2 linked regions of the Homo sapiens genome follow. The protein of the gene in region 2 interacts with the protein of the main gene of each other region in a pairwise test. Each region holds a gene or a part of one and is shown on either strand. Other genes may lie near its edges.

The links. The genes of interacting proteins can lie anywhere in the genome.
Region 1: the proteins of C11orf87 (region 2) and KRT83 interact in binary tests that used the Homo sapiens proteins (3 or more experiments, as listed by UniProt).

What each region holds. Positions count from the first base shown.
Region 1 is NC_000012.12:52,313,792-52,318,424, forward strand, and holds the end of KRT83 (keratin, type II cuticular Hb3), read right to left. Parts: intron 4,180-4,633; coding exon 4,119-4,179; intron 3,986-4,118; coding exon 3,890-3,985; intron 3,233-3,889; coding exon 3,068-3,232; intron 2,803-3,067; coding exon 2,677-2,802; intron 2,323-2,676; coding exon 2,102-2,322; intron 1,553-2,101; coding exon 1,521-1,552; intron 1,028-1,520; coding exon 840-1,027; 3' UTR 510-839; downstream 1-509.
Region 2 is NC_000011.10:109,417,976-109,425,205, forward strand, and holds the start of C11orf87 (uncharacterized protein C11orf87 precursor), read left to right. Parts: upstream 1-4,214; 5' UTR 4,215-4,288; intron 4,289-4,462; exon of another isoform or gene 4,463-4,592; intron 4,593-4,803; exon of another isoform or gene 4,804-4,892; coding exon of another isoform or gene 4,893-5,074; intron 5,075-5,399; coding exon of another isoform or gene 5,400-5,658; coding exon 5,659-6,252; 3' UTR 6,253-7,230.

The DNA of each region.
Region 1 (4,633 bases), on a different chromosome or scaffold from region 2:
AGCATGAGGAGGATGTGGCAATGGGGTGGGGTCCAGACTGACACAGGGCAGCCCCCAAGGGTGGCTGCTGGCACTTTTGGTGGTTGTTGCTGTGGTACCTACGTGGAAGGATGGCTGGGGGGCAGAGTGAAGATATGCTAGGAAGAGAAAGTGGGGACCGTGTATGCAAGAAGGGGGCAAAACTCAAACACACACACAAGCACGCATACACGTGCACACATATAAACATGCGCATGCACATGCACTGCCTTCCGGCTGACTTCTGGCCTCCTCGGTCCCCTTCAGAGCCATCCAGACTGACAGGTGTGACAGGTAGAAGGTGCTGTGAGCACAGTCAGCACTGCCTGGCCAGGAGATGACAGAACCATCTGGGGACAAGGCCCTACGGGTGTCCAGGCGGAGAACAGGCCAGAACGACTCTAGTCTTCAGGCCATATCATCAGGCTGGGGTGCTCACCACTTGGTGGGTGTGGGGAACCCCAAGAAAGCAAGACATTGCAGCACACAAAGCAGGTCCCCAAGTTTATTGGAAAAGGGGAGACAAGAGGCCAGAGAGGCAGGGGGAACAGTCTCACAGTGCTTCTTCCAGGGAAGCAAGGCCCTTCTCCCCGGGAGGGGCTGAAGGCTGAGACAGGGGAAGGAATGGGTCTATTCCCCAGCCACAGGCCCCTTTCCAGTGGGATGAAAGGTGGGGAGGAGCCGCTGGTGGGAATGAGCCGATGGTGTATTCTCAGAACACAAGGGGAAAAGCCAGCGATGTGCTGCTGTTTTCAGCTGGTGGTGGGGCAGTGGCACGTCTGGCAGGCAGAAGGGGCTCCCCTGGCTCTCTTTTGGGCCACTTAATGCCTCCCCTGGCCGCAGGAGCCCCCTCCACAGGTGGTGTTCAGCTGGCCACAGGGCTTGCACAAACCAGTGCTCACCACCAGGTTCCCGTTGCAGGGGGCACTGCAGACGCTGCCCGTCACCGGCCGGGAGCCCGACACGCAGAGATCCCCGCACACAACCCCACCCCGGGAGCTGCTGACACCTGTGGGAACAAGGGCAGGGTCAAGAGACCCCTGCTGATGGCCATCCCATCCAGCCACCTTCCTTTGGTCTGTCTGATGTGTCGACCATCCAGGGAAGGATGCAAAGAGCCTCCAGTTCTATTCTGAAGGAGGGAACCCTAGCCTGGGAGCCAGCAGACCGGGGTTCTGGTCCTGGTTCTGCTTTGTGACTTTGGGAGTCCTTTCCTCTGTCTGGGCCTCAGCTTTCTCACCTATATAAGGTGAAGGTTATGAATGACATCTGAGGTCCCTTCTTGCAATGACATCTTATTATTTTTTCCCCTCCCCAACACATTCAGGCTGTGAGGTTCTTCCTGCGAGCTAACCTCAGTCTGTCTTGCTGCATGACCAACCTATCCTCTTTACTGGGGGAATTATTGGAAACACTCCTCCCAAAGTCTCTGCATATATTCATAGTCAAGAAGTCCTTTGTCCCCAGTCTACATTTTCCTTTTCAGGGCTCAAGATACTTACAGACATTCACAGCTTCAACACCTTCACACAGCCTGAGTGGGGAAAAAGTAAGGAAGGGGAAGATAAAAGAAGTCAGAATGAGGTCATCGAATTTCCGCTAGGTGCTGAAATGGGTCATCTCAGGGCTATTTCTGACCTACATTTATTCCCTTGTGCAGCTTAGAAAAAGTTGCCTTTCTGGCAGTTGAAGCAACGTCAGGTCACACTATTTAGCAAGTAGAGTATGGTTGGATTTCAATTCTTATTTGTCTCTCAGCTGTTATTTGCCTTTGTGCAGTGAACAACCTGAACAACCATATCTGTCAGGTCTAGATAGGCTCAACTTTCAGAAGGAGAAGGCCCTCTTGGGAAGACGAGGTCAGGGGTGGAGTTTGGCCAGCAACCCTGCCCTAGAATAGGTGATGTCCAAGAAACCAGGCAGGGTATGGATCTTGGAAGAGTTGAGAATGAGACAACTTGAAGATATGGATCTGGGATCCATAGAGGCAAGAATGTCACCTGGGGACTGAGACTGAGATAGGGAAAAATCAAAGGTGGGCAGGTCTATGCAAGTGGAGTGCTTAGGGCTGGGTTGGACCCACCTCTGCTCCTCGCCCTCCAGCAGGCGCCTGTAGGTGGCGATCTCGATATCCAGGCCTAGCTTGGAGTTCATCACCTCCTGGTACTCCCTGATCAGGCAGGCCATGTCTTGCTTGGCCTTCTGCAGGGCGCCCTCCAGCTCGGCCAGCTTGCAGCGGGCATCACTGAGGGCCGCCTCACCCTGCTGCTCAGACTGGGCCACCGCAGCTTCCAGCTTGGAGTTCTGGGAGGTAGGGGGAATATGGAGAGGATAAAGTGAAGTTTAGTTTCTTGAAATCCCAGCCAGTCTCCAATAGGATCATTCAACTTCTATCTTAAAATATTATCTCTCCAATCAGCTTCCTAACCTTCCTTCCCTCCTCACTTACACTACACACACACACACACACACACACCACACAGATACACACACACACCTTGGCCAAGACAATCAGAAATATTTCAGTAGATTTCTCATCTTACTCTGTCACCCATGAGACTGCACTGGGAAGACTTTTCCAGAATCTAACTCAAATCCCTCTGCCGAGGGCTAACCCCAGTCTCTTCCTACACTGAGGGGTGGGCCGGGCTCTGGTACCTGGCACTTGGCATTCTCCACCTCGGCTGTCAGCCTCTGGATCATGCGGTTCAGCTCGTTGATCTCCTCCTTGGTGCGGCGCAGGGTCTCCCCGTGCCTGATCACTGTGGCCTTCATCTCCTCACACTGCAGGAAGCAGAGATGTTCATGAGGCTCAGGATGAGACATCCCATTCATTCAGGACAGCTCAGATGATTGCACAGATTGTGCAGTGCTCGGCCTGTGCAACCACACGTGGCAGTCCTGCCCTGCCACCCCAACATGAGAGCTATTGGTTTTTCTCTTACCATCCTTAGGGATCAGAATCCCTAGACAAAGAAGCCTTTTCTACTAGATACCTCACATCCCTCCCACTGCCATGTCTAGCAGGCAGGTGTCCTGTGCCGCTCACCTTGCTGCGATACCAGGACTCGGCCTCAGCCCGGCTACGGGTGGCAATGTCATCATACTGTGCCTTGATCTCGGCAACGATGCAGTCCATGTTCAGGTCCCGGCTGTTGTCCAGCTTGACAACCACGGAGGTGTCTGAGATGTGGGATTGGAGAATGCGGATCTCCTGCAGGAGGTGGGGAAAGGAAGGACAACTCACTTATCTGGGCTTCTCCTAATCCCTGGATGCCTATCATCCTTTTGGCTCATCGGGAGTGAACTTCTCATGTTTAGAGAAACAAACCTGATGAAATCACATAACTTTCTGCACAAATAGGAAATCCCTTTAGAGGAAAACACAACCACTTCTCAACTGCTTGCTTTTGGAATTATTCAGGCCCATGTGCAGCCAGCATGGTCCAGATGCTTTCCAGGGGCTCAGACCCTGTATGGGGGGCCTCTTTCCATTCTCCTAGACCAACCCCATGTAGGAAGGCTATTGCTGCCAGAGAAAGCCCTGGGCCAGAGCAATGGGTTCAATTCTGTTTGATGCTGTGTGGGGTCTATGCTGCAGTCCACTGGCTCAGGGGAAGGATGCAGGGCAGGTTCCCAAGGCACAGGTGTCTGGGGTGCTCACTCTCCTGCCCCTTACTAAATTTGTTCCTTTTTGGCTTTCCATCCGTTTGCCTCCCTGTTCCTTCCCTCTCCTTGCTCCCTGCCAACCCTCCAGCCGTGAGCCTGGGTTCATATGTCAGCAGGCCTGGTTCATGCCTGTGGGTGTCTGGGCAGAGGGTCAGGGATCCCATGGGGGGATCTGTGCCCACCATGGTTGAGAGCCCCTCACCTCCTCGTACAGCCGCCTCAGGAAGTCAATCTCCTGGATCAGGGCCTCCACGTTGGCCTCCAGGTCTGACTTGCGGAGGTAGGCGCAGTCCACATCCTGGGTGGGGTAGAAGGGGCTGTGAGGCCGGCTTTCCTCAGAGGGCTCTGAGGACCTGGCTGCCATGTGGCAGGACAAAGAGGATGGGTGGCGGGACTCAGGGCGGGCTCAGGGCCAGCTGGGCTTCACTCACCTTCTTTAGAGCCACAAACTCGTTCTCTGCTGTGGCTCGAAGTGCTACTTCTTCTTCATACCTGAGGTGAGCAGGGAGAACAGGACCTTGTCTGAACAGCTCTTGATCTTGGCCATGAGCATATATGCAAAGGAGTCTCTTTCCTAGACCTCCCCCTGCTTGTCTCCTGCCCCCAAGTGAAATGGGTGGGGCTCTGCAGGAACCAGGCTGCTGGCCTGGGTACTACTGGGATGCACTGGAGAAATGAAGTGCCTACTCCCCTGTTTTTTTTTGTTTTTGTTTTTGAGATGGAGTCTCGCTCTGTCGCCCAGGTTGGAGCACAGTGGCGCGGTCTCGGCTCACTGCAAGCTCCGCCTCCCAGGTTCATGCCATTCTCCCCTCTCAGCCTCCCGAGTAGCTGGGACTACAGGTGCCCACCACCACGCCTGGCTAATTCACTCCCCTGTTTTGGTGGAGGTTGGGAGAGCAGGATCTGGAAGCTGAGTGTGTGAATGTGTGTGGTTGGGGAGTGGGAG
Region 2 (7,230 bases):
CATCCTACATCTGTTTCACTACATTTCTGTTCTCTCTTGAGTATGTAGGTTAGGATAAATCTATTTTCTATTGACGATACTCCGAATATTTTAAGAGGCTATGCTACATTCCCCACATCTTTCCATCTCTAAGATTAGTATTCCCTTCTCCTTGAATTGCTTATCTATCATTGTTTTCAGTCCCTTCATCTTTCTAGTCATCTTCCTGTAAAGGACACTAATACTTATCAAATTTTTTTCTGAATTTTGATGTCCAAAACAATATAATGCTTCTATTGCCAGGGATAAAATGTCAATCTTAGTAATTTTCTTTATAATGTAATGGGCTACTATTTATTGAATGCTTGCTATATGCTCAGTGCTTAAAATAGCACTGCAAAAAATGATTCTATTATTCCCATTTTGCAGATGAGAAGACTGAACTAGAATAAAACTAGATAACTAGAACAAAGTCAAGAACTTCACTCGACCTTTATTATTTATTTACTGGGTGGGGCAGTAGTTAATAGTAACATGACAACATATAAGCATACCTCTGTAGGTATGCAGGGGCCCAGACTGGAGGAGATATAAGATTAGGCAAAATGTCAAAATCAGCTAAACATTCTCTGGAAAAGTCCCTGTAAATCTAAGAGGAGCCTGGCATATATCATGCTGCACTGTGATTTAGAATGACCTGCCTTAGTCAAACTAGACTTTGTTCAGTCCAAGGGAATCTGTGGAGATCCTGTAGACTGCTCCTGGTTGGAAGGAAGGACCTGAACCATGGGGATTTCCCATCTTCCCTCCTACACTTCAACCAAGCATCTCTGCTTTTCTCTAGCTTTACATAATTACCCCAATCAGAAGTAGACAGAGGTAAAATAAAAATAAAAATAAGTAAGTGTGTTTGAAAGAGAGAAACAGAAAGGGAAAGAGAGAAAAGCCATTAGTCATGAAAAGTAGTCATAAAAAGAATTCTGACTTTGGAATCAGTTTACCTGTGTTTCAGCCCAATAATATATGTGGTAATATACTTCTCAGTGGGTTACTTAGACATTGTCTTTAAACACTCTGAGCTTTAGTTTTTTCACATTTCTTATAGCAGGTACTCAGATTTTTGTTGAACAAATGAGTAAATGAATAATTTTGTATTTTGGCAAAAATAACCTTACGAGGTTGTAGAGAGGATTAATGCTAATATAGGGTTTACTATAGCCTGGTACATAGTAGGTGTTTTGCAAATAAGGATAATAGCTATTATTATTATTGATTCAATGCTGCTTAGATTTAGGTACAGGTGCCCATGTGGCACTTTTATCTAAGTTAGATCGAGATTCTTCATTAAACTTGAAAGCAAATATTAAATGCTCTTAAATATTTGGAACATGCTTATGTCCAGAGGGGCTTTCCCATTACAAGGGAAGATTATAGGAATCTCAGGAGCTTCTTGGTTCTCTACTCTTGGGAGTGTGGCTTGTGAAGTTTGGTGGCGAAAATAGTGGCAACAATGGTGTTGTCTGGAAGAAGCCTTGCCATTCAGCCAGATGTGCCAAAAATCATGTGGCAACTCAGTGGGATCAATTCCTGCAGTCCAAGAGGTGCCCATATTTGCTGTCATTGCTCTTCCTTGGGTTTAAAACACACTACCCAATGACATCCAAATCTACGTATTTAGTACATTTGTCCTCTGGGTAAGAATAAATTATGAACCTACTGCCTATTCTTGAAAGAGAAAAGACAAAAAAGGGTACTATGCTTTTGATCTGAAAACTAATGTCTTTAATCTACCTAAATCATTGCTAGTTAAATACCATTTTCTGGTGAATCACATTTATCTGCTGTAGAGTATAAGTTCTCCAGATTAAGATCTTGTCTTTTCATAGGGTGTATAAAATAATGCACACAGCTTTAGCACTCCTGGTATAACAGATGGCTATCATTTGTAACAAAAGAATAACATTGGAAGCCTTCTGACATGTCCTAGAAGCTTGGTGTGCAAGAAGAATCCCATTACATACATATTGTAATCCCATTACAACATGTTGTAAAGGTATATTCCCCATAGGGAAAGCCCAATAACTAATTCCTTCAAATCTAGAAAACAGACGACTGAGAGTTAATTTTTTTTTTTTTTTGAGATGGAGCTTCACTCTTGTTGCCCAGGCTGGAGTGCAATGGCACAATCTTGGCACACTGCAACCTCTGTCCCCCAGATTCAAGCCATTCTCCTGTCTCAGCCTCCCGAGTAGCTGGAATTACAGGTGCCTGTCACCATGCCCGGCTTTTATTTATTTATTTATTTATTTATTTATTTATTTATTTATTTATTTTGTTATTTTTAGTAGAGACAGGGTTTCACCATGTTGGCCAGGCTGACCTCTAACTCCTGACCTCAGGTGATCCACCTGCCTCAGCCTCCCAAAGTGCTGACATTACAGGCATGAGCCACCGTGCCTGGCCAAGAGTTAATTCTAATTGCATAAAAATTCTTTGCTTTACAAAATAACATTTTTTAAAAAATTTTTTATTTTTTGCTAAAGAGTCTCTTGAAATAGCCAGATCTCTTTTTGGAGAATCCAAAATTGGATTTGCTTTACAAAATGTTTATTAGACTCAACTTTTCAGGAGCAAAGCGAGTGTGAAAAAATGGGACATTGCCTGTCAGGCATCAATGGTAAAGTGTCACTTAGTCACAGCGTAAAAAATAAATAAATAAATAAAAAGGCTCACCATTCCATCCCCTAAGCCCACCAAAGTCAAATTGTCCAAATGTGGCAGGTGGCTATTGCAGGCATCTGGTGCTCTCATTCCAGTCAGGAAGGTGAGGCTAGCATTGGGGTGGGGGCGGGGGGCAGACATCAGTAACTGTATGACCCTAAACACAGAGTCCGAAGAAGGGACCCCCAGATTACAGACAGCCTTTCCTCCACATATCAGACCCTCTTTCTTTACAAATACAGCAAATACAAGCAGATAACTGGGCATCAGTCATTTCTGATGCATTGCAGGAAAGAGCAACAACATACACTGTATCATTCAATTTATCAAGTAAACTACAGGCACTGTGCTAGACTCAAAGATAGAAAAGAAGACAGGGAGCAAAGAAGAAAACGCACGTTTAGTAAGACACCTGAGTGCCTTCAAAGACCATGCAATGTCTTTAGGTACTGTTCCCAGCTAGCTTCTCCAACAGAAAAATGAGCATACTCCATTTCAAAGCTGGATTCTGTAACCAAATGCACTATTCATATTTTTCCAAGGCTCCTAAACCAATAGTTAACTAGTCTCTTCCAAGATTTAGGGAGGCTGTTGAATTCTTTTCTGGAAGTTCTATGTATTTTGCTAAAAGTTGTGCTCCAAACACTTTACCAAGAATTAGGGTCAATGAAGGGGTACTTTGTGCAAGCTACAAATACTTGGAATTTTCATAAGGCAGTTCATTTCTGCCTTCCTGTGAATAATTTCATATTTCTTCCTTGTAAGACTAGGGTTTGTGTGCTCATGAGTGTCTAGATTGTCAGAATAGAAGGAGTGTTTAATACATTGAGTGGGTCTGGGGCCTGGAGATGAAGATGTGAGGGATGCAAGAAGGAGGATCTTGAATCAGATGGAGCGAAAGATAACTTGGAAACTCCAGTGGAGAAAAATGGCTAATTTGGATTGTTTAATTTGTTCAGGTTTGTGTTTTGGGTTCTGTCACACTTATGTTGAGAAACGTCCCTGCCATCTCTCTAATGCACGCAGTTTATGTTCAGAAACGGGCAGCACAGAGAGGAATTAGCGGTGGGGGAAATTTTCATCACCACCGGTGATGTGTGCACCGATGGTAGATGGCTATCCAGAGTGTAAAAATGTGATTCTGGGACCAAAGGGTCAGCTCTAGAACGAAATCAGACAGCTGGAGAACTGAAGATTCAACTCTTCCTAGGCAAGAGAGTGAGAAAGGTGGGTTGCTTGCAGGGTGGAGGTAGGGGTTGCTCCTCCTAGTTCCTGGGCTGGAGAAGGGCAGGGAACTGGGAAGTGTGTGTCAGAGGCTCGCTATGCTAGGACAAGGTGTTGGGGTACTAGGGTGGGTGGGGGCCTGAGGGGTGGCTTGGAGCCCTGGCGGTGGCTGCCTGACGTCACCGGCCTCTCTGGCAATAGGCTGCGAGCTCAGCTCCCTGAAGCGGCGGCGAAGGCGGCGGCGGCGGCGGCGGCGGCGGCAGCAGCGCGGCTCGGTCTCTGGTCCATTCACTCCACGCTTTCTGCAGCCGCCACTGCAGCCGCGCGGCGGGGGCTCCCTCCTTGCAGCCAGCCGGCGGTCCAGGTAAGAGACAAGGTGTGAGTAAAGGCTTCTGATGGCCGGGTGGCCTGACGGCCAGGTGCGAGTGGGGAGGACAGCTCACGCGGCCTGAGCAGCCACCCCTGGCCATAGCTCCAGCCCCCGCCCCTGCCCCCGGCCCCTGCCCTGGCTTGCTTGCGCGCTACCTCGCTACTCCGCAGTGCAACAGTTTGCAGCTGCCTCTTGGGAGCAGCAAGGAGGCTCTCCTGTGCGCTGCGGGTCTACCGGCTCCAGTATGCCGGAAAAGCCTCGGGGCCTTTGGGCTGGGTCTGGGAAGGACAGAAAGAAGGTCCCGTTCCCCAAACTTTGCAGGCGGGAACCCTCCCCTTTCCATTCCAGCTCCTCTAGAAAGAAGCAGGCTACTGCCAAGTTGGGGGCACAGGGAAATGGGGAGGAGGGGGCCGTTTGTGGGAATGTGTCAGCTGAGAAAGATGCTTCAGCTGCTTTTTTTTTTTTTTTTTTTTTTTTTTGGAGAGGGGAGAATACCAGGGAAGAAGGCTGGAGAAGAGATGGAGCGCGTTCCTGCGCGTCAGCCGCGGTCGCGGACAGAGGCAGAGTGGGATGTGGTGCCAGGGGTATCCCCCTGGGAATGGGACCCAAGGGATCTGACGCTGTCCAGGGAGGGCGAGTCTGGACGGGGAGGGAAAGGAAGGGAGGACTGCGTACCCGGAGCCCGCGCGGCGGCCCGGAGTGGGTGCTGGGAAGGGTAGGATCCAGGCGAAGACATCAACCGAGAGGGCGCAGAAAAGAGGAGAGCCGGCGCTCTGGGAAGTAGGGACTTCAACCAAAGCGGCTGCGTGTCTGTTGCAATTATAAAGTTGTGAAGGGCGGAAGGGAGGCTGCCTTATCTGCTGAGTAATCTGCACCTCCGCGGTGCCGGCGCAGACCCCATCCTGTCGAGTGGCATGAGCAGGCTGCTGGTGGCTCTGGTGCACGGCCACGGGCCGGCAGGCTGGGGTCCGCTGACCGAAAATACAGGCAGCGCCCAGCTCAGGCAGTGTGCCCAGAGGGCCGCTTTGCGGTGGTGGTTGATCTTTCCCGACAGCACTCCCCTGGGCAGCGGCCGAGATTCTAACTAAGCTTTGTGTCTTTGCAGCCTGGTGCCTCTGCAAAGGAAAGGGGAGCGTGGAGACGTGTTCGAGGTGGTATCGGCGAGGATCTCTCGGGCGCCGCTCACTCCTTGGTCGCCTTGCTTGCCAGCAGTTGCTCCCTTAGTCCTTGGCTCGCTCGCACACCCCCTCCCGCTACAGGGAGCAGTTTTGGGTGGCGTGGGCTCCGTCCTCTTCTTGGCTGGTAGGAACGGTGTGCCCAAGAGGGGAAGCCTAGTGGGCCTGGCCCCTCCCAGCCCCGCGCCAATGAGTGCCAGGGCGCCGAAGGAGCTGAGGCTGGCGTTGCCGCCGTGTCTCCTCAACCGGACCTTTGCTTCCCCCAACGCCAGCGGCAGCGGCAACACGGGTGCCCGCGGCCCAGGCGCAGTAGGCAGCGGCACCTGCATCACGCAGGTGGGACAGCAGCTCTTCCAGTCCTTCTCCTCCACGCTGGTGCTGATTGTCCTGGTTACCCTCATCTTCTGCCTCATCGTGCTGTCCCTCTCCACTTTCCACATCCACAAGCGTAGGATGAAGAAGCGGAAGATGCAGAGGGCTCAGGAGGAATATGAGCGGGATCACTGCAGCGGCAGCCGCGGTGGCGGGGGGCTGCCCCGACCTGGCAGGCAGGCCCCAACCCACGCAAAGGAAACCCGGCTGGAGAGGCAGCCCCGGGACTCTCCCTTCTGCGCCCCTTCCAACGCCTCGTCGTTGTCCTCTTCGTCCCCTGGCCTCCCGTGCCAGGGTCCCTGTGCTCCTCCGCCTCCACCGCCAGCCTCCAGTCCCCAAGGAGCACACGCAGCTTCCTCCTGTTTGGACACAGCTGGCGAGGGCCTTTTGCAAACGGTGGTACTGTCCTGATCGTCTAGCCCCTCTCGTTCCCCGTCCTCGTTTCCAGCATCTTTGCCACCCTTGCTTTTTTCCTTCTTCCTTCCTTTTCCATTTTCCTCTGGCCCCTCTTTCCTCTTCCTGGTTTCCTTACCTGCCCTCCCCTTACTCTTGTTTCTCCTCCGCCGAGGCACTGTGCGGTATTTGTAAATATTGGGCGAGGAAAGTCTCGGAAGAAGAAATAACGCTGATAATAATACTTTATTAATATTTATAGTAATTATTATAATACTAATAACACAATCCAAGCGCATGACAAATCACATAATTTCTAACTGTCAATGGAGGATGCATCTTCCCATTCCACCCCGCGCTCCCCTCAATTAGGAGGAGAAACCGCACAAGCTACCAAATATATAAAAGGCATTGATTCCCGGAGCAAAGGGAGGGGAGGGGGCCCGGTAATGTACATAGCTGTCAAGTTAAGATTTAGTTTCCTTCCTTCCCCTCTGACCCCTAAGCTTTCACTTTTCCTTTAGCTTCCCTTTCCTCCCCATTCCCACCCTCAGCCGGGCTCAGGCAATAGTATATTATAAAGAAAATGTCTACATTAAGCACCAGGACTGCAAGAGGCCATAGAGAATAGTCCCCGGAAAGTGTTTATGACAGGTACCCCTCGCCAGTCCGCCCATTTCTCACCCTTTGGTTAACCATTACATTTTCCAGGACAGAGCATTTAATTTACTTTTTAAAATGACCCTCGCTGGCCGAGCATAAGTACGTTAAAATCTTTAAATGAGTTTTTTTTAAAAAGCTAACGCTTTCATTCCCTGCCCCGCCCCCACCCGTACACCTTTGACTTGTGACATTTTCAGGATTTACAAAGGATCTGGGAGCTGTCCAGCCAGGTCTGGTGCTGAAGTCGCCTCACCGTTCTGATTACTTCCTCTAGTTGTGAAGGCAGAGGAGGGGCTGTTTTGGAAAGTGACTATTCTGGCTTTTGGTTGGGTT